3 separate regions of the Homo sapiens genome follow, and all the other regions are linked to region 1. Evidence: fine-mapped expression QTL. A gene starts in region 1. Each other region holds a variant in brackets. All regions are shown on one strand. Distances are from middle to middle. Region 1 holds the start of NDUFAF8 (NADH:ubiquinone oxidoreductase complex assembly factor 8). Region 2 overlaps CEP131 (centrosomal protein 131). Region 3 overlaps SLC38A10 (solute carrier family 38 member 10).

Region 1 (5,894 bases):
GACGCATAGGAGGCACGGAGGACCCAGCGGAGGGAGGGGGCAGGGCGCGTCAGGGGAGGCCGAGCCGGCCAGCTGGGGTGAGGGTGGGCAGCAGGTGGAGAGGCCAGAGATGGGCCAGGATCAGCAAGGCGGGGCTTTGATCGGGACCCGGCCCAGGTGAGGGCTCTGGCTGAAGTCTTCCTTCTCAAACCTGGAGGATCCGCCACCCTCCCCCATTCTCCAAAGCCCTGGCTCTTCCTGAGCGCGTGCGCGGCCCCTGTACCTGCAGCTTCCTGGATGAAGGCAGAGTTGCGTTTGAGGATGAGCAGGAAGAAGGAGGAGCCGTGGCTGCACAGATAGAGCAGGATCTTCAGCACCTGGGGAGTGGGGCGGTCAGCAGTGCTGGGCAGGCCGGACACGGGACACCCAGGGCAGGGCCCGGGGGCACCCCAAGGGCACAGAGCTGCCTGCCACCCTGGGCCGCTCGTCTGCTCCTCCATCCTCACCACCGTGGGCCGGGCCTCAGGCCTGACCCTTGACCACCCAGGGGCTCACCTTGAGCTTCCCGTGGCCGGAGCTGCTGTGCAGGCGGCTCAGGAGGTACTCCAGCAGGCACTGGCTGCTGCCCGGAGACTCGTGGGAGATTTCTGCGGCACGCTCGGGTTAGGGAAGGGCGAGATGATGAGGGCTGCGCCAGGCCGCAGGGAGACCAGGCCATGGGGCCTCTCAGTTCACGCTCCCTGGAGGCGCCTACTGGAGGCTCTGCCATCAGGAGCACCTGGGCTTCTAGGGTCCCCTGTGTCATCAGTATTGCAGCCTTCAGACCCCACCCATGCCTGGTTACAATAATAAAGGAGCCGTGCATCCCCCTAGGGACAGCAGAATCCCCAGGAACCCTTTGCACCACTCTGGGACCCTGCCATCCGCTCTTTCCACTACACGGGGACATCAAGGAAGGATACTAGCAATCTCTTCAAACAGGTAGCCCGGACACGGGACATCATCATCGGACGTCCCCTTCAGGAGAATCGGGAGCTGAAAGGGAACAAGAGCCCCTACCATGATGAGGTGCCATTTCCCACAGGGGTGAATCCGCAGCCCCCCAAAGGGGATGGAAACGACCCACCTCTCACTGTTGACATGGCCGGAGAGAGGACTGGGAAGGGATGAGAACTGTGCTACTGGCCACAGGGAGGCTGCAGCAGGGTCCTCTCTCAACAGTCAGGGATGAACAGCCTCGGAGAAGAGGCAAATCAATGGTGGTTCTCCACGGAGGAGCTGCGCCACTTGGGTTAAGAAGGGACACAGCCCCCAGCCTCCCTGCACTTACCAGCATGTAAGGCTATTTGAAGGTACCTCTCCTGTACCTACCTACTGACTAGCAAAGCCAAACAAGGCCCAGGCAAGCCCCTTTTCCACACAGGGGACTATGAATCGTTCCACCTCCCCAGAGGCCGGAATGGCAGAGTGACAGCCGCTCAGCGTGACTAGCTCCATCGCTCCCCGAGAACCGACTGATGTCGTGTGTTTTACGTTCGCTTAGCGCAGACGTACTTATTTGTTTCATGCTTACTTACTGGCACAAAGATGTACGGTTTATAGGGATGAAAACTGGAACCACCCATTCTTGCATTATTCAGTATCAGGACAGAATAGAGTTCAAGAGTATTTAACAGGACAAGCATGGGACCCACCGCGTGAGGTGCCGAAGCCTTTCGGTCGGAAGGGCCGAGATCTAGTGACAACATACGAAAACGTGGACCTGAAGTGTTTCCCGAGGCTGTGGACACGCATCACTGACACTGTTTGCCCACCACGCCCTAAGGGGAGCTGCTGAGGTTTGCAGGTGACAGCTGACAACTGCAGAACGCAGCACAGAACGACTATGTCGAAACCTTGCACTGAGAGCCTTGACCAACCCTAGCGTGGCTTCTGGCAGCCCAAGGTCGCGCCCTGGGACCACCCAGCCCCCTCTGAGGTCCAGCCCAGGAAAGCTCAGGGCTGACAAAAGAGGGCAGTTTGCTCAGGACGACACCTGGGAACTCGCCCCGGCCTCTACTTCTCAGAGGGTTTACTAAGAGGGGCTTACAATGGTGCGTCCTTCTCTGTCCCTTCGAGACGTCTGTGTTCTCTGCAACCCAGGGGTGCCTCTCCAGGACCGGAGTCCTCTGAAACGCCACCGTCAGGGAGGACGGCGGGCTGCCAGCCCACCTGGGCGCCAGCAGCACGGACACAGCGGCTCCACGTCCACCGGGTCCGCCGCTCCTTCCCTCCCGTCGGAGGCCACTGAATGCTGGCCGAGGCCTGTTCGTTCCCCCAGGGTCTGGCTGTGCCCATCGCCCTTGCGCTCGGCGGGTCCGGCTTGGAAGGCCCGGCTTGGAAGGCCCCGGGACGGCGCGGCGGGCGGGCAGCTCAGGGGCGTCGGCGCGGGCGAAGGGGCCAGGAGCAGCTACCCGGCGCGGAGACGCAAGGTCAATGGCTCCGGCCCGGGGCGAGTCCGGGGAATGCGGCGCTCGAGAGGAGCCGTGGGACCGGGGCCCGGGCGGACCGCCCTCACTCACCCGGTGTAGAAAGCTCAGGCGGTCCCGTAGCGGCGGCGCGGCAGCCATGATCCAGGTCCCCTCCCGGTCTGCCCCGCTTCCGCCAGGCCCGGGCCCTCCAATCACTGCGCGGGTCTGGGTCCGCCGGCCAATCCCTCACGGTAGGGCGGGCCCTGAGGTTGGCTTCGTAAACAATTGGAGCCTAGGCCAATCCGAAGTCCCAGAGCACAGACAGACTAGGACAAGAGCCAATTGCGGGGGCTCGAGGCCAGGCAAAGCCTGGCCAATTAAGAAGTTCAGGAAAGGTTATGGGCGGAAGCGCCGACCTATCAAGCTGTTTGACACCGGAAGAGGACGGACCTAAGATGGCGGCCTCCAGGGGGCTGGGAATAGCCGCTCATGTCGGCTAACGGAGCGGTGTGGGGCCGCGTGCGAAGCCGCCTCCGCGCCTTCCCCGAGCGGCTGGCCGCCTGCGGGGCCGAGGTGAGGAGCCGCGGGCGGGCCAGTGCTGCGGGGCAGGAGGAGCCGCGCGGGGAGGTGGCTGGGAGGGAGGACGGTGACGGGGTCAGGGGACCCCACGACCCACGCCCGTCCTTTCCGCAGGCCGCGGCGTACGGCAGGTGCGTGCAGGCCTCCACGGCCCCGGGCGGCCGCCTGAGTAAGGACTTCTGCGCGCGGGAGTTCGAGGCCCTGCGGAGCTGCTTCGCCGCTGCGGTAGGTGGGCGCGGGCCCCTTCCCCCCTTCCCAGCCCTTCCCCTCCAAGAGCCAGCGGGCCCCGGCTTTCCTTTGCTTTCCCGTTGGTTCAAGGTTTGAGCGCCTGCCGCGTGCTTTAGACGCCGGCTGACAAAATCACCGAGCCATCGACGAGCCCGCGAAACCTCGGCCGTCCTGGGCTTGTCCCTGCATGTTTGTAAAGCGGGACTGGCACCAACCTCAGAAAGGATGGGAGATGTGTGCAAAAAAGCGCCTTGTAAAACGCGTAAGCTTTCGTGTTAGCACTGCCGCCGGGGGGTGTCATGCCAGGATTGACCCAACACAGGACTCCCGGAAAGTGCCCAGCACCTTCCGGGTCTTCACCTCCCTGGCACTTGCAGCCCCTGTGCACCTGCAGTGGTGGATTCCTTCAGCACGTGTCCTGCGGGGAACCCCCAGCCACCCTCACAACTGGCACGATAGGGCTTCTTGCCCGTGGGGCTTTAAGTCATTCTGAGGCTGGTTCCCTAAGTGTCAGCCGCACCGGGTACCACCTCAGTGTATCTGGGTAGGCCTTGATGCCAGTGCTGACTCTGTTTACTGGGAGCTGTTAATCCGGAGATTTGGACCAGAGAAAGGGTATTTGAACAAGAGTTCCACGGCCTTCATCCCTACCCGGCCCCAGCAGCCTTGGATCCAGGGGTGGACAACTCATCAGAAGTTGCACTTTTTGCTGGGTGTGGTGGCGCGTGCCTGTAATCCTACCGCTTTGGGAGGCTGAGGTGGGTGGATTGCTTAGGCCTAGAAGTTTGAGACCAGCCTGGGCAACATATGGAGACCCCGTCTCTACAAAAAAAAAGAAAAAAAAAATTAGCCAGGCATGGTGGTGTAGTCCCAGTTACTTGGGAGGCTGAGGTGGGAAGATCACTTGAACCTGGGAGGTGGAGGTTGCAGTGAGCCGAGATCACGCTGCTGTACTCCAGCCTAGGCAACAAAGTGAGACTGCATCTCAAAAAAAAAAAAAGGGGGGGGGCTCCTGCTTTCCCTCTATGAGAGCTTGAGACCAAATGTGGCATCTCGTGGGGGCTCAGAGGAGGGGGCAGCAGTGAGTTCTGTGATAGTGTCATGAGGCCCTTGTCCCGTGGACAAGTGACCCAGAGAACCTGCCCATGGGGCCCCAGGCTCCAACCAGTCGAGCCCCCACCATATGCCAGCACCCAAGTTCTCTGTAAGGTATTTGGTAGAACACAACGTGTGGTGTGGTAGCTTGCTTTTGAGGCGTATCTAACTTGGAAGCAAGCCATTCAGACAAAACACTTTATCTTGCAGGCCAAGAAGACGCTGGAGGGAGGCTGTTAGGAGGGACTCTGAGCTTCACACCTGTCTGCTGCCATGGGTGCAGAGCCCTAGTCCTGATGGCCCCTGGTGGCACATATCGAATGCCTAGGGCAGAAAGGAAGTGGGAATGGCGAAGATGTGACATTCCTCGGTGTTAGATCCTGTTTTTTCTTAACAAGTTGAGGCGTGGGTAGAGCAGGAATTGGTTTTCCAGCATTGTGTCCGTAAACCTGAGTTAGAATAAGATGTAACGGAAGCCACGATAAAGACTCGGTCAAATCCTGCAGCCTGGGGCTTACTGTGTGCAGACTGCAACATGTGGGTCTTGGCCTCTCTGAGATGGAATGGGGCCCAGAGCCTTTCCCCCAAAGCTGGCAGGGCTGGGACTTGGGGACACCCTGCCTCAAGGTCCCCGTTTTAAAACACTCTCACTAAGGTATTTAATGTGAATCTGGTGAAGCCTGCAGACCTTGCTGTGGGTATACAGCACACACCAAAGACAAGGACGTCAGCACCACGAGGGGACACTCCATGGGGCAGGGTCCTCGCAGGTGGCTTTCCTGGACACGGGGCAGGGCGGAGGCTCTTCACAAAAGGGCCTGAGTCTCCGAGAGGGGCCTGCGTAGAGCACCAGCAGCCAGTGCCCCTCCTGTGTGGGGTTGGTCGCCCCCTCGGCAGCCCAGGTACTTCACCGATGGCGCCTGCCCTCTCGTTCCCCCTCCCTATCACATCACTTGACCTAAAACTAAGGTGAGAAGGGCCACATCCTGACTCTGCCCGGGCACTTGTTGATGGTGAGACCCCGGAGTCCATGGGGCCTGAGCGCCACCTGCAGGGCGTGGCGGGGACTGCTTTGAGAGCCCCCCTGCTCCGGGGTGCAGAGGCTGCACTTTCCTGGGGCTGCAGCCTGCGCCTGCCCCCAGGCCCGTGCTAGCGGCTGACCCCGTGGGCTGAGGTCTGTTCCTCCATGTTTCCTCCTCCAGATGCTGCCCCAGAATTAACCTGGTTTCCCCTAAGGGTCTGATCTGGGTGGTGGGTCTGCAGGAGCCAGGCCAGAGTGCTGGATTTTGTCCCAAGGGCCAGGATAGTGTCACATCTTGGGAACCACGGAAATCCAGACCAGACTCCTGGGGTCAAGCCACCGCAGTCCATCCCTGTGCATGCCAGACTCAGATGCCCTGCGCTGGCACAAACCACCCGACCCGCCTCCCCAGCGTGCAGGGCCGGCTGCCCCCCACCCCTGCCTTCCTCCTTCTTGTGCCCAGCACTCATCCATGAGCGAGCCTCAGTGTGCAGACGTCCTTTTCTTAGCCCTGTCACGCCCTCTCCGTTCTCTGGCAGCTC
Region 2 (6,788 bases), 21 kb before region 1:
TGTGCCAACCAGAGCACGAGGGAGCAGGCCCCGTGGCACCCTGTGATGCGAGTGTGACTTAGGGCAATGATCTTTACGGACAGCAACTTGGCAATGCCTATCAAAAAAAAAAATTTTTTTTGAGACGGAATCTCGCTCTGTCGCCCAGGGTGGAGTGCAGTGGCGCGATCTCGGCTCACTGCAAGTTCCGCCTCCTGGGTTCACGCCATTCTCCTGCCTCAGCCTCCCGAGTAGCCGCGACTACAGGTGCCTGCCACCACGCCCGGCTAATTTTTTTTTTTGTATTTTTAGTAGAGATGGGGTTTCACCGTGTTAGCCAGGATGGTCTCAATCTCCTGGCCTCGTGATCTGCTTGCCTCAACCTCCCAAAGTGCTGGGATTACAGGCATGAGCCACCGCGCCTGGCCAAAAATTTACAATTTAGTTTTAATTTTAATTTTAAAAGATAGAGTCTCACTCTGTTGCCCAGGCTGGAGAGCAGTGGCATGATCATAGCTCACTGCAGCCTCAAACTTTCTGGGTTCAAGCCATCCTCCTGCCCCAGCCTCCCATGTAGCTGGGACTACAGGCATGCACCACCACACTCGGCTAATTTTTTAATTTTTTTGTAGAGACAGGGGTCTCACTATGTTGCCCAGGCTGGTCTCAAACTCCTGGCCTCAAGTGATCCTCCCACCGCAGCCACGCAAAGTGCTGGGATTACAGATATTGGCCACCACTCCCGGCCCCCTTTCAAATTTTTTTATTTATTTAATTTTTTTTGAAATGGAGTCTCGCTGTCACCCAGGCTAGAGTGTGGTGGTGCGATCTTGGCTCACTGCAACCTCCAGCTTCCGGGTTAAATCAGTTCTCCTGCCTTAGCTTCCTGTGTAGCTGGCATTACAGGTGCCTGCCACCACGTCCAGCTATTTTTTCTATTTTTAGTAGAGACGAGGTTTCACCGTGTTGGCCAGGCTGGTCTCGAACTCCTGACCTCAAGCAATCTGCCCACCTCGGCGTCCCAAAGTGCTGGGATTACAGGCACGGGCCACCGCACCTGGCCCCCCTTTCAAAATTTTAAATGGACTTATGCTCTGACCCAGTAGTTATCCTTTAGGATTTATTCTACAGGCGTATTTACATGTATGCAAAATGGCAAAGACACAGGGTATTTGCTGTGCCACTCTTGGTACTATGATAAGGAAAATCCAGAGGAGCACTGGGTGAAGTTCTGGTGCATCATCTGATGAACTATTGTCAGCTGCTACAAAACAATGTAAGGAAAGCGGGAGCAGGGTCAGGTGCAGCGGCCCACACCCGTAATCCCAGCACTTTGGGAGGCCGAGGTGGGAGGATCGCTTCAGCCCAGGAGTTAAGGACCAGCAACCTAGTGAGACCCCTGTCCCTACAAAAAAATTAAAAATTAGTAGGCTGGGTGTGGTGGCTCACACCTGTAATCCCAGCACTTCGGGAGGCTGAGGCAGGAGGATCACCTGAGGTCAAGAGTTCAAGACCAGCCTGACCAACATGGCGAAACCCCGTCGCTACTAAAAATACAAAATTAGCCGGGCATGGTGGTGCATGCCTGTAATCCCAGCTTCTTGGGAGGCAGAGGCAGGAGAATCCCTTGAACCCGGGAGGCAGAGGCTGCAGTGAGCCGAGATCTCACAAATGCACTCCAGCCTGGGCAAAAAGAGCAAAAGTCTGTCTCAAAAGAAAAAAAAAATTAAAAATTAGCTGGGCAGGGTGGTGAGCACCTGTAATCCATGCTACTCAGGATGCTGAGGTAAGAGGATCACTTGTGTCCGGGAGGTGGAGGCTGCAGTAAGCTGTGGTTTCTCCACTGCACTCCAGCCTGGGCAACAGAGCAAGACCCCGTCTTAAAAAGAAAAAGAAAAGAGAATGCAGGAGCCCCACGCAGCTGACGGATACGGCACTTGTTCCAACACATCTCCAGCATCACTGATGCCTGTGTGCCCAGAGTAAGTGTGGGTGCAGGAGAAACAGAACAGTGGCCGCCTAGGAGAGGCCCGCAAGGTCGGGCAGGACAGGCTCACTGCTCAATGAGCCCCCTTTTCCCAAATGGTGGGTGTGAATGGCCTATTCAAAACACATGGTAGGAATTTTGAAATCATCCCCCAAAATGGCACCAGTCATTGCATCAGGGCCATGGGATTATGGGTGCCCTTCATCCTGTCTCCATTTTCCTGGGGTCAGTTTCGCAGCCTCCAAGAGGAAGATAAGGGATGTCAGGGGAGGGATGAAGGGGCTGCCACTCACTGACGGACACCACGGTGGAAAGGCACCACTCATGCTCAGATGGTAAATCAAGTCATGGACTAAAAACCCTAAACTCCACCTGCAAGAAGGAGGCAACATCGCCCAGGGAGGGGCAGGTGGCCCCCATGGCCATGACACATATGCACAGTGATGTCTGTTCCCCAGTGAGCTTGTGCTCTTGGGATTTAAAGACCTCTTTTCTTTAAGGGGAAGGGAACCAGAGTGAATAATGATCTAGGGGGCTAGAGGATCAGGTGGGCACACAGCTGGGGCAAGGAAGAGGGACCCTCTACAGTCTGGCACCGACATCTCTTGAGCCAGAAGACCAGCAGGAACTGCAGTTACATCCTGGATGGGGAATCCCGGGACAGCAGGCCGTGGACGCAGGAAGATCTTTAGAGACAAGGGGTAGAGTGGAAACCCCAGGCCAATGGCCACCGAGAAGGTCTCCGAGCCAGGGGACAGCACCCCACCCCACCCACAAACACCAGGAGGAAGAGAATCACGTGCCGCCTTGTACAGGTGTGAAGCCATGCCTGGCCAAAACAAATGCTCTCCAGGAATCCCGATGAGACTGAGTGGTAGCAGGGCAGGTGGCCGAGAGGATGGGGACCGGGCACAACAGAAACCCCTGAGGTCACGTCACACACTGGCGGGGGTTCCTCTTCCACCAGCAGTTCCCGAGCTCCCACCATGGGCACAACAGAAGGCAGACAGGCATGCAGGGGTGGGGCCGTCTCGGATCGAGCGAGGGCCTCAAAGAATTGAAGTGAACAGCTGGAACATTCCATGAACGAGGGGACTGTTAGCAGTCGCCACTCAACACTGCGGGAGCGGGCAATGGTACCAGCCGAGGAAAGGAGGGATCGATATGAGTAGCGCTCGCTGTGGCTTTGAACCTCTACTCAGCAACAGAACATTTCCCAGCAGAAAGGCTGGGAGTGTGGTTAGGTGCCTGGGTCGGCCGCGGATAGAGCCTGGCCATGCCGCCGAAAGACCATCTACTAGAAAGCCCGGAAACTTTTACAACAGTCTCCACACAACAAGAGAGCTGCAATTTCTTTCTTTCTCCTTCTCCCTCTCCCTCTCCCTCCCCCTCCCCCTCCCTCTTTCTTTCTTTCTTTCTTTTTTTGAGACAGAGTCTTGCTCTTTCGCCCAGGCTGGAGTACAGTGGCATGATCTCGGCTCACTGCAGCCTCCTCCGCCCGGGTTCAAGCAACTCTCCTGTCTCAGCCTCCTGAGTAGCTGGGATTAAGGGTGCGCGCCACCACGCCCGGCTAATTTTTGCATTTTCAGTAGAGGCAGGGTTTCACTATGTTGGCCAGGCTGGTATTGAACTCCTGACCTCAGGTGATCCACCCGCCTCAACCTCCCAAAGTGCTGGGATCACGGGCGTGAGCCACCTCGCCCAGC[C/T]CAGATCTGCGATTTCGAGTGCGTCTTCCCCGCCCCATGTGCCATGAACCTAGGGCTTTAGAAACAGCGGGAGGGGCCAAGGCAGGTGGGCGAGGGGGTCAGTGACGCAGGAGCAGGGCTGCGGACAGGAGAGGCAGCAGGCTCAGAGACGGCTCTAGCCCAAGCTGGTTACCCCTCTGCTAAAACAGTGCAGCATATTTTTATTTTCACAGCTTACGTCTGTAAATGCCTAGAGGCGTACCACATCTTTAGACAACCTGCCGGCCACAATGACACATCAGGACATCCCGGGTCCCCGCCCTGCTGGCCCAGGCTTTGGGAACCTGCTTGGTCCAAGGGTCCGCTACTGGCCCGGCTGCCCTTACCCCGGAACTCGGCTAGCCGTCTGGCGGGCCACACCCTGCCCACCTGGGGGTGCTTCTAGGGCAGACACAGGAATAACTTTTTCAAGGAGAAGGGGGAGGTCCAAGCCTTTTATTCACAGTGGAACCCTGGCCTGGGCCTGCCAGGGGTTCCTGTGGGAAGCCTCAACTGCCCTCCAGACCCCTTCTCTCTGCCCTGCTATGTTGCCTGGCACGGACCTCAGGCAGGGAGCCCCAGACCGGCTGCCGCATGGAAGCCAAGGCCCCCAGGCCCTTGCTATTCGGAAGCTCAGGCCAGACTCTGGTCAGGCTCTGCCCCAACCCCCACAGAGCGGCTCGATTCCTCCCTTGCCCCAAAGACTGGGCCTGGCAGACACCAACTCAGGGTGCAGCAGGCCCGGCCTGCCTTTCACAGCCCCCATCTGGGAACCACCCACCCTCCTCCCTACTCCCAGAGGTGGGCAGGAAAGGCAGCTCTCACCCCGAAGCTCCCACGGCTGTCCTGCTGCCCACACACCCACACACCCGTCTAGGTTTCTCCAAGGCCACCAGGAGCTCATCACCCCTCCCCACAGGTCAACCCCATTTCTTTCTTTTTTTTTTTTTTTTGAGATGGCATCTCACTCTGTCGCCAGGCTGGAGTGCAACGGCACGATCTCGGCTCACCGCAACCTCTGCCTCCTGGGTTCGAGCAAATCTCCTGCCTCAGCCTCCCGAGTAGCTAGGATTACAGGCATGCACCACCATGCCCGGCTAATTTTTTTTTGTATCTTTAGTAGAGACGGAGTTTCACCATGTTGGTCAGGCTGGTCTTGAACTGCTGACCTCAGATGACCCGCCTGCCTCGGCCTCCCAAAGTGCTGAGATTACAGGCGTGAGCCACCGAGCCCAGCCAACCCCATTTCCTGAGGATTCAAACAAATCCAAAGGGCGGTGGCACAGGAGGCCTGGGGCTGTTGCTGAAAGAATCCAAGCTCTGGCTTGACTTTCTAGTGATTCAGCACCCACGCCTGTAAGACTCAAGTCCTACCTGCCTCCTGGAACAGCCACGAGGATCCAGCATGTCCAGATGTGAGGCACTTGTTCACCTGTGGAGCTGGACCCAGGGGTCAGATGCCAACTGAACAACAGCCCTCCAGGAGGCAGGGGCCCGGACTCCTAGGCCACAGTACTCACCAGCACCTTCCTCTTCTGCTCGCTGCCTGTGACCACGGAGACAGAGCGGACGATGGGCTTGGTGGTGGCGGCACTGCCAGGACGCCGGGACACAGGCGGAGGGAGACCTGTCAGACTCAGGTCCACACCTGCTGGGCTGCGCTCCGGGACGCTGCCGATGGCCCGGGTGCCTTTCATGGTGGACAAGGCAGGTCCTGAGCGGGGAAGCAAGAGCTGCAATGAGATGCCGTGGGGGAACTACAGTCCCCTGCACCCACCATCTCCAGCCCAGCCTCAGCTGGGTCCACTGGCCACCAAACTTCCTGGGAAGGCCTGTCACAACCTATGCACCCCTCTGGCTGGTGGCAGGCTCCTCGACAGGAACATGAGGGAGCTGTTCTGAGCCCAATGTCAGTGTATGCCAGGGCAGGAGGGCCCTGGATGATGGACAGGTGGGTGGCGAGGGCAAGGCCCGTGGGTGGGAATAAGCCAGCAGCACCCCAGAGGGAGCCTGGGCCACAGGCCATTGTCGATGTGAGCCAGGTTCTGCCATCTACCCCACACCGTGATTCTGAGAAAGTCACTGCCCCGAGCCCCACTGTTTTCTTCTGTAAAAGGGACATTTGATTTATTTTTTATTTTATTATGTTTTTGAAACAGAGTCTCGTTCTTGTCACCCAGGCTGGAGTGCAGTGGCGCGATCTCGGCTCATTGCCACCTCTGCCTCCCGGGTTCAAGCGATTCTCCTGCCTCAGCCTCCTGAGTAGCTGGGATTACAGGTGCCCGCCACCACGCCTGGCTAATTTTTGTATTTTTAGTAGAAGTAGAAACGGGGTTTTGCCATGTTGGCCAGGCTGGTCTCGAACTCCTGACCTCAGGTGATTCGCCTGCCTCGGCCTCCCAAAGTGCTGGGATTACAGGCATGAGCCACCGTACCCGGCCCCTAAGTAAAAATACACATTTTAAAAAGGGGTTGCGTGTTGGCCGGGCACAGTGGCTCACTCCTGTAATCCCAGCACTTTGGGAGACCAAGGCAGGCAGATTGCCTGAGCTCAGGAGTTCAAGACCAGCCTAAGCAACACAGTGAAACCCCACCTCTACTAAAAACTTCAAAAAATTAGCCGGGCGTGGTGGCGAGCGCCTGTAATCCCAACTACTTGGGAGGCTGAAGCAGGGGAATTACTTGAACCTGGTAGGCGGAGTTTACAGTGAGCCAAGATCGTGACACTGCACTCCAGCCTGGGCAACATAGCGAGACTCCATCTCAAAAAAAAAAAAAAAAAAAAAACGCGGGAGTGGTTTTGTGAGGTCCAGACAAGATGCTGGTCTCAAGGCCTCAAGGCTGCACCGGGCAAACACTCCCTGGGTAATGTGTTATTCCAGCAGGGGACGGGGGTTCTGACGATCGATCGAGGGGATTAGCTTGGGGATGCTGGCTTCCTTACTTTGGAACTTCTCAGAGCAAACCCTGCCGGCCCCCAGCCCGTCCCCACATGGCACCTCTTTCTGAACGAGTCTTTCTGATCTTTCTGAACGGGTCTCAGCTCGTGCATGTGCCCCTGCCAAAAACCCTGCAACAGCTTCCTAGGCACAGAGAAT
Region 3 (6,788 bases), 44 kb after region 1:
GTGGAGATGGAGCTGCCAAGAGAGACGCTAAGTGGGAAATGACGATTTGGATCTCGCATGTGGGTGTAAACACAGCGGTATGAACAAATTTCATCTGTCACATTAGTTTACGATTGGCTCAATGCATGCCCACTAACGCTACAGGGGCCGCTCTGCCAGCCCCCCGCATGCCGATGGTCTTTTCCCGTCTGCGCCGGATTTACGCCTCTCTTTTCAGCCGGTTACCATGTTCCAACCGGGCACGAATCACTCGCTCTTGTCATTTTGGTGGAGAAGGTAATGCTGCTGGAATTATGGAAGAGCCCGATCCACATTTACAGAGCCCTGCGTGCCAGAGAGAAAGCAGGCTCGCGCGCACATGCAGGCCTCCAAATGCATCCAGCAGCCGTCTGAAGTCAATGTTTGTGCCATTTCCTTTTAAATATTCTCAGAACAGCTAAATTCTGGCGAAGCGCTCGACTCTGTGCAGTCAGATGGCTGGGTTGCTGCTGCATCCCCCACAGCCAATGCTCTGCTTGTGGGGATCTGGCAAACCAGGGACTCTCACCAGCTAGTCCCAAACATGTCCCAGGAATGAAGCCGATTTACCTCCCGATTAAAATATAACTATCTCCCTCAACCTGGGGCGGGAAAGGTCATCACTGAACAAGACATCACTCTTTAGCAGCCAGCAAAGAGCGATCACAGTAAACGAGAAAGAGAGGGTCCCGTCTCCCAGCAGCTCGCCCTCCCCGTCACAGAACTCCACCACAGACCACAGCAGGACACTTACGACTGGCAGGCGAAGGACATGCCGAAGATGGGGATGCAGCGGAAGACGCCCTCCCAGCGGACGTAGCTGACCCGCCGCAGCCACTGCCCACTGAAGAGGCCGTGCTTGAGAGAGGAGAGCACGATCTGCAGAGGGAGAGGGGAGAGAGCACGGGGCAGGTCAGGACGCAGGCGGGACTCAGCATCCCGGCCCACGCGCCGCTAGGAAGGAGTGGCAGGAGAGTGCAGCTCTTCCCACCCACATCCCAGCCCCCCACCACCCTGTGCCGCCCTGTGCCGCCTTGTGCCGCCAGCTGGAGGCAGGGAGACCCCGCGCCTTTCTGGATTCCCAACCCCTGCCTCAGAGCACCCTGGTTCATCCCGCGGGCACCAGAGCAGCTGCTCTTGCAAGGGGGCTGCTTGGCGCAGACGGGAGGAGACCACTGAGCATGCATGGCCCCAGTTTCCGTCGGTTACAGAGGCTGGTTTCCCACGTGGGCAGGTCCCTCCCCATCTTGTACTGTGTTAGACATGGACATTTTCCAAAAGACTGGCCCACCAGGACGCGGCTGTCTCAAGAGTAAAGAGGTAGCTGCCACTGGGCTGGCCCTCACTCGGAGAGCTGAGGAGCACTGGAGACCCTGGCTTCAATGACCACCTGGCCTCGTCCTGGTGCAAACCCGCTGTGAGACACCCAGGTTCCAGCCACTCAGGAAGGGTCATTTCTGACCTTGCCAGGGAACAGGAAGGTCCCAGGGGCTCGGGTCCTGGGGCTCCTATGGGCAGGGGCCTGGCAGAGAATGGAGGGTGTGCTGGGGGCTCTGGGTGGTATCCGTGTTCTCAGTGCCAACTCCACAGCTGGCCCCTAGTCCATCCTATTATAAATTCTCATTTAGAAAAATAATAGCGGCCGGGCGTGGTGGCTCATGCCTGTAACCCCAGCACTTTGGGAGGCTGAGGCGGGTGGGTAACAAGGTCAGGAGTTCGAGACCAGCCTGGCCAAGATGGTGAAACCCCTTCTCTACTAAAAATAAAAAAAATTAGCCAGGTGTGGTGGCGGGCACCTGTAATCCCCGCTACTTGGGAGGCTGAGGCAGGAGAATCACTTGAACCCAGGAGATGGAGGTTGCAGTGAGCCGAGATTGCGCCACTGCACTCCAGCCTGGGCGACAAAGTGAGACTCCGTCTCAAAAAACAAACAAACAAACAAACAACAATAGCTTGCCACCTTGTGTCAAAACACTGGCACCGTGAGCCTTGGTCACAAACCCTACATAAGACATCTTTGCATAAAGCAAGTGGACTTGGAGTTTCCTTCACCTTGCCTGGACGACATGAAACCAGCCTCAGAGCCACCCCTGCCCTGAGCCCCAGCCTCTCCTGCCAGCCAACCGCACCTGGGTCCAGCCAGCCCCGTCTGCCCCATGGTGCCCAGGGACCATGAGATGAATGGCACTTCCTGGTACATCCTGCTACTTCCAACACATTCCCAGGAGGCAGCAGGCGGCCACACCAGACCTGGGCACGAGCCTGCTGTGGCCACAGGAAAGAATGGGCCAGGAGCAGCCTTTCAGCGGGTACCCACGCGCGCTGCCGACTCACCACGAACATGAACACGGTGTAGAAGAGGAGGGCCATGGCGCTGAAGGACTGGATGGAGGCCATCATGTTCCGCTGCAGGCTGAGCGGGAGCACGATGCACAGCGACACGGCGAACAGCAGGAACATGCGGAAGGTGCCGCCCACCTGCGGGGAGCCGGCAGGGGGTCTTGGCCACAGCCCGTGCCTGCTCACCACCGGGCTCTCTGCACTGACAGGGAGTGGGAGCGCCCCGAGCCCGAAAGCCGACGGCATCCAGGTGAATGACGCC[G/A]GCGGGTCTGAGGCTGGCACACTCGCCCGAAGCCGCTCTCACAGCCACTGTGCCGTGTGCAGCCTCGGACACTGGGTATTTCCCCTCCCTGGAGCCCAGCCCAGCCCCACAGCGAGACCAGCCAGAGCAGGACAGCAGCCCCCCTAACACGGGAGGCAACACAGTGGCTGTGAGTCGGACTCAGCTGCCCTGGGCGAGGGGTGGGAAAGGTGCAGACTGCCCTGTGGGCAGGACGGGCCCAAAGCTCTAGCTACAAAGGCCACTACGAAGCACGGAAAACGGAAGGTCGAATGGGGAGACAGAGTAGGGGACCTAGCTCCCTGGATGCTCCTTGGAACTGTCTCTGACAAGGAGCGAATCTGGTACATTCCACTCCTGGAGAGGACACCCCCGCCTCAGTGGCCTTTGAAAGCCTTTCTACGCTGTTAGCACCCTAACGTGCCGTGATGCCTGCCCTGCCCAGTGAGGGGCTCTGCTCCCCGGCAGCGAGGGAAAGGTGTGTGGGCCCGTCAGGTGGGCCTCTCTGTGGTGGGGGGCAAGCACGGAGGAGGCTACCCCAAGGTCCCTGCAAGAAGTGCTGAGTCCACAGCCCCCAGAAGCTCTGGGTGACCATGGAGGCCGGGGATGCCTGAGGGCCTGGCCGCCTCTGCCCTCCAATGGGCAGCCCGGGCTGGCAGAGACTTGCTCTGCACTGTGCCCGGGTCTGAGGCTCCCCCACCCGCCCCTCATCTACATGGTGTCAGACTCTGCCTGGCTTGCTTCCTCGCGTGTACCTCTCACAGACGTGACCCAGCAAAGCCCCCGCACTCCACCAAGCCCCTAGAATGACAGCAGGCTCGACAGAAGCTTCTCCCGACCAGCACCCAGGTCTCGGTCCTCGGGAGGATCCCACAGAGGGCCTCAGAGCAGCCGTCAGCATCTGAACAACCCAGAACCCTGAACACATCCTTACCTGAAACCCGAACAGCCGGGCAAAGAAGTTGGACCCCAAGTCGCCGATCACGACGTAGAAGGCGATGCAGGTGCCCAGCATCAGCCCGATCATGCTGCACAGGGACGGGGGGTACGGGAAATGCCATCAGGGCAAGCTGGCACACACCTGGGCTGCCGCCAGGGACTACCCCAAGGCTGGGCTGAATGACAGATGTGATTTCTTTTTTCTTTTTTTTTTTTTTGAAACAGAGTCTCACTCTGTCGCCCAGGCTGGAGTGCAATGGTGAGATCTCGGCTCACTGCAAGCTCCGCCTCCCAGGTTCACGCCATTCTCCTGCCTCAGCCTCCCGAGTAGCTGGGAGTAGCCGAGTAGCCACGCCCGGCTAATTGTTTGTATTTTTAGTAGAGACGGGGTTGCACCGTGTTAGCCAGGATGGTCTCGATCTCCTGACCTCTGTGATCCGCCTGCCTCAGCCTCCCAAAGTGCTGGGATTACAGGCGTGAGCCACTGTGCCTGGCCAACAGATGTGATTTCAAACGCGCCCCAGTTCACAGGGCGCGGGCAGGTTCTGTGGCGCTCGCTATGTCACTTGGCATGCACACCAAACGACACTCAGCTTTTCTCAGCCTGGTATTATACTCGCCCCTCTGCGGAGGCTCTAAAAGTTACAAAAATCTCCATGATGGGCCTGGCACAGTGGCTCACGCCTGTAATCTCAGCACTTTGGGAGGCCGAGGCAGGCGGATCACCTGAGATCCGGAGTTCAAAACCAGCCTGGCCAACACGGCAAAACCCTGTCTCTACTAAAAATACAAAAATTAGCTGGGCCTGGTGGCACGCGCCTGTAATCTCAGCTACTTCGGAGGCTGAGGCAGGAGAATCGCTTAAACCTGGGAGGTTGCAGTGAGCCGAGATCACAGCATTGCACTCCAGCCTGGGTGACAGAGCAAAACTCCATCTCAAAAAATAAAAAAATTGAAAAAGCCCCACGATGTTAGTCAAGTTAAGAGAACAATCAACTGCTTTCAAAAAAGGCTGTTCGTTTGAGTTTACAATTCCCTAATTTAGAAGCCTAGAAGTGCAATCTCCCAGCGATTTTTTCATCTCATAAATTTTTTCATCTCATGAAATTTTATGCCAAAGGAAGAAAAATATGACATTTGCAATGTAATGCCACCTTTATGCAGCGGTGTTTGAGGGGTAGGTGAGGTGCTGAGGAATGGTGTTGAGAGACTACAACTGAGGGAGGACTGTTTACCAGGTTCTTGGAGTTTTCCATACATAAATTTTTCTTACAACACTGAAGGGTACAAGTAATTGGACTTTCATGTATTTAGCGACTCTTCAGAAACCTAAGTTACAGGTGAATCTGGGGATGAAACTGCCGCTCCCACCGGGAGGGTCCCCAGTGTCTGGGTGCGGGGGTGGGGGGCAAGCGCAGCGGCAGGGCGGGGCTTACCTGGTCTCCACCAGCATCTTGCCTGCCTTCCCGTAGGCGTGGAATGCTAGTGCAAAAGAAAAAGGAACACTCAATCCAACAGCGTGAGAAGCTCGTCCAGAACAAAGGTACTGAGCCAAGCTGTCAAGGGCGATTTCACAGAAACCCACGGGCCCAGATTCTCCGGGGCATGAGGGGTATTTCAAATTCTGGCTGCCAGGTTATTTTTGGATCTACTGTCTGCAAATGAAACTACAAGAAACAAAGACAGAGCAAGGGAAGGACAGGAGGCAGGTTCTTCTTTCACTCAATCAGATTTTTTAACAGACAAAGAGACAAGTCCCTGCGATGCAGTCCTCCCACCCGGTGACCACTGGGGGCCGGCTGGAAACAGCATCCCACAGCCCAGCACGGCCGAACCCCGTGCTGCTGGCCAGAGCTTGCAGGTCCCCAGAGGGTTCAGTGCCGGTCCCAGGTACCCGAGCGCCACAGCCTGCACCAGAGGGACTCTGACGGAGGGCTTTCATTTTCACCCTTTGGTTGGGATTTATAGAAACAAATGGAGACTCCTTTCGAGCATGGTGCTTCAGGAAGGGAGGGGACGAGAGCCCTGGGCTTGTGGTGTCCACGTGGACAGCTAATGAGGAGCCTTGCCGATGAGGAGCATGCGTTCCCGACGGGGCGGCCGAATGCGGAAGGAGCCGCCATTCTCTCCGCCCTGACCGCGGGATTCTCTGCAGCAGATGAGAAACGGCGCTGACTCAGCAGGGTCCCTCCCAGGCCCCGAGCGGTCATCTGGTGACCCCCGCGCTTCCCCCACGGCCCAGCCGGAGAAGGGCAAAGGGAAGTCCCGGCTCCAAGGCGCACCCAGAGATGCGGTGCATGTGGCAGGATGGCCCAGCCCCGTCGGCAGCCCCAGCTTCCTGCCCCTGGTTTCCTTCCTCCCACGGGCTACAGGCCTCTGATGAGCTTTGGAAAGCAGGAAACACACAGGCTAGTAACTATGAATGGGTCCAAAAAACACTCCTTATTACTTTAAACTACTTAGGAAGAAGCACAGCGTTGCCAAACGCCAGAGCCCGGGAGCAGCAAAGACCCCACCTCCAGGGCTCACCCTGGCCTTTCCTGGACCTGCCTATGGGCTCGCTGAAGAAGCCTGGCACCCCTTGAGTTCATCCCACAACACGGAAACCCGAGCCAGGCCCCAGAAGCTGACCTGAGGCTGTGGAGAGTTTCAAACACTAAGAACTCCAGGAGCCCCCTCAGCAGCCCACAGCCCAGGGCCCTGCTGTCACCAAGGAACGCCCTCCACACCCCTCAGTGACGGCACAGCCCGGAAGCAACAAAACACGGCGCTCCAAACATGAAGTTGCTCCTGGCCATAATGTGCCTTTTCATTCTCCAAAAGGAAGCTGAGTCTCTACAGCATATTCCAAACACGAGCGCACCTTGCCCAAGAAGGTTCCGGAATATGCCTGCCACTGGCAAGGGAAAATGGGAGGCTGTCTAGGAAATCAGGGCAGCACTCTCTTCTGGTTCCCAGGACAACGTCCTGAGAGCCCACCACGCTGAGACACGGCCCCACGCGCCTTCTTTTCCCCACCTGGGCCAAACCCTCACCCGCCATTCCCAGTGTCAATCCCTCGGCAACTTCTCCTCCCCAGGTTCAAACACCAGCCCCAGTTGGACTGACCCCACTCCTTCACATCCTGCGTGGACTGGCACAGAGAAAGGGAGGAAGAGGCTGAAGCGCCCAGCAAGGTCCCGGGGACCCAGCCCTCCCCCGAGTGTGGACT

What was found.
Region 2: its variant is fine-mapped to the expression of NDUFAF8 in thyroid (GTEx, PIP 0.98).
Region 3: its variant is fine-mapped to the expression of NDUFAF8 in whole blood (INTERVAL, PIP above 0.99).

What each region holds. Positions count from the first base shown.
Region 1 is chr17:81,236,446-81,242,339 of GRCh38, forward strand. It overlaps NDUFAF8 (NADH:ubiquinone oxidoreductase complex assembly factor 8), which reads left to right and starts at 2,873. Exons shown (of 3, transcript NM_001086521.2): 1 at 2,873-3,002; 2 at 3,123-3,233; 3 at 4,542-4,865. The coding sequence starts at 2,919. The coding sequence ends at 4,571. TEPSIN (TEPSIN adaptor related protein complex 4 accessory protein) reads right to left here and starts at 2,610. Exons shown (of 13, transcript NM_001363764.2): 1 at 2,541-2,610; 2 at 942-1,014; 3 at 535-626; 4 at 263-356. The coding sequence starts at 2,588. RefSeq lists enhancers at 1,934-2,516, 2,760-2,979, 3,360-3,439 and silencers at 2,300-2,389, 2,492-2,707, 2,950-3,099.
Region 2 is chr17:81,214,670-81,221,457 of GRCh38, forward strand. CEP131 (centrosomal protein 131) reads right to left here. Exons shown (of 26, transcript NM_014984.4): 2 at 5,211-5,404. The coding sequence starts at 5,387. Among named protein-coding and RNA genes, the nearest start is that of CEP131, 4.9 kb to the right of the region's middle. RefSeq lists an enhancer at 6,657-6,788. The variant C/T (reference allele first, on the strand shown) is at 3,673.
Region 3 is chr17:81,279,837-81,286,624 of GRCh38, forward strand. SLC38A10 (solute carrier family 38 member 10) reads right to left here. Exons shown (of 16, transcript NM_001037984.3): 3 at 5,014-5,059; 4 at 3,573-3,666; 5 at 2,353-2,496; 6 at 773-897. Among named protein-coding and RNA genes, the nearest start is that of SLC38A10, 12 kb to the right of the region's middle. RefSeq lists enhancers at 2,053-2,566, 5,657-5,986 and a silencer at 5,813-6,107. The variant G/A (reference allele first, on the strand shown) is at 2,621.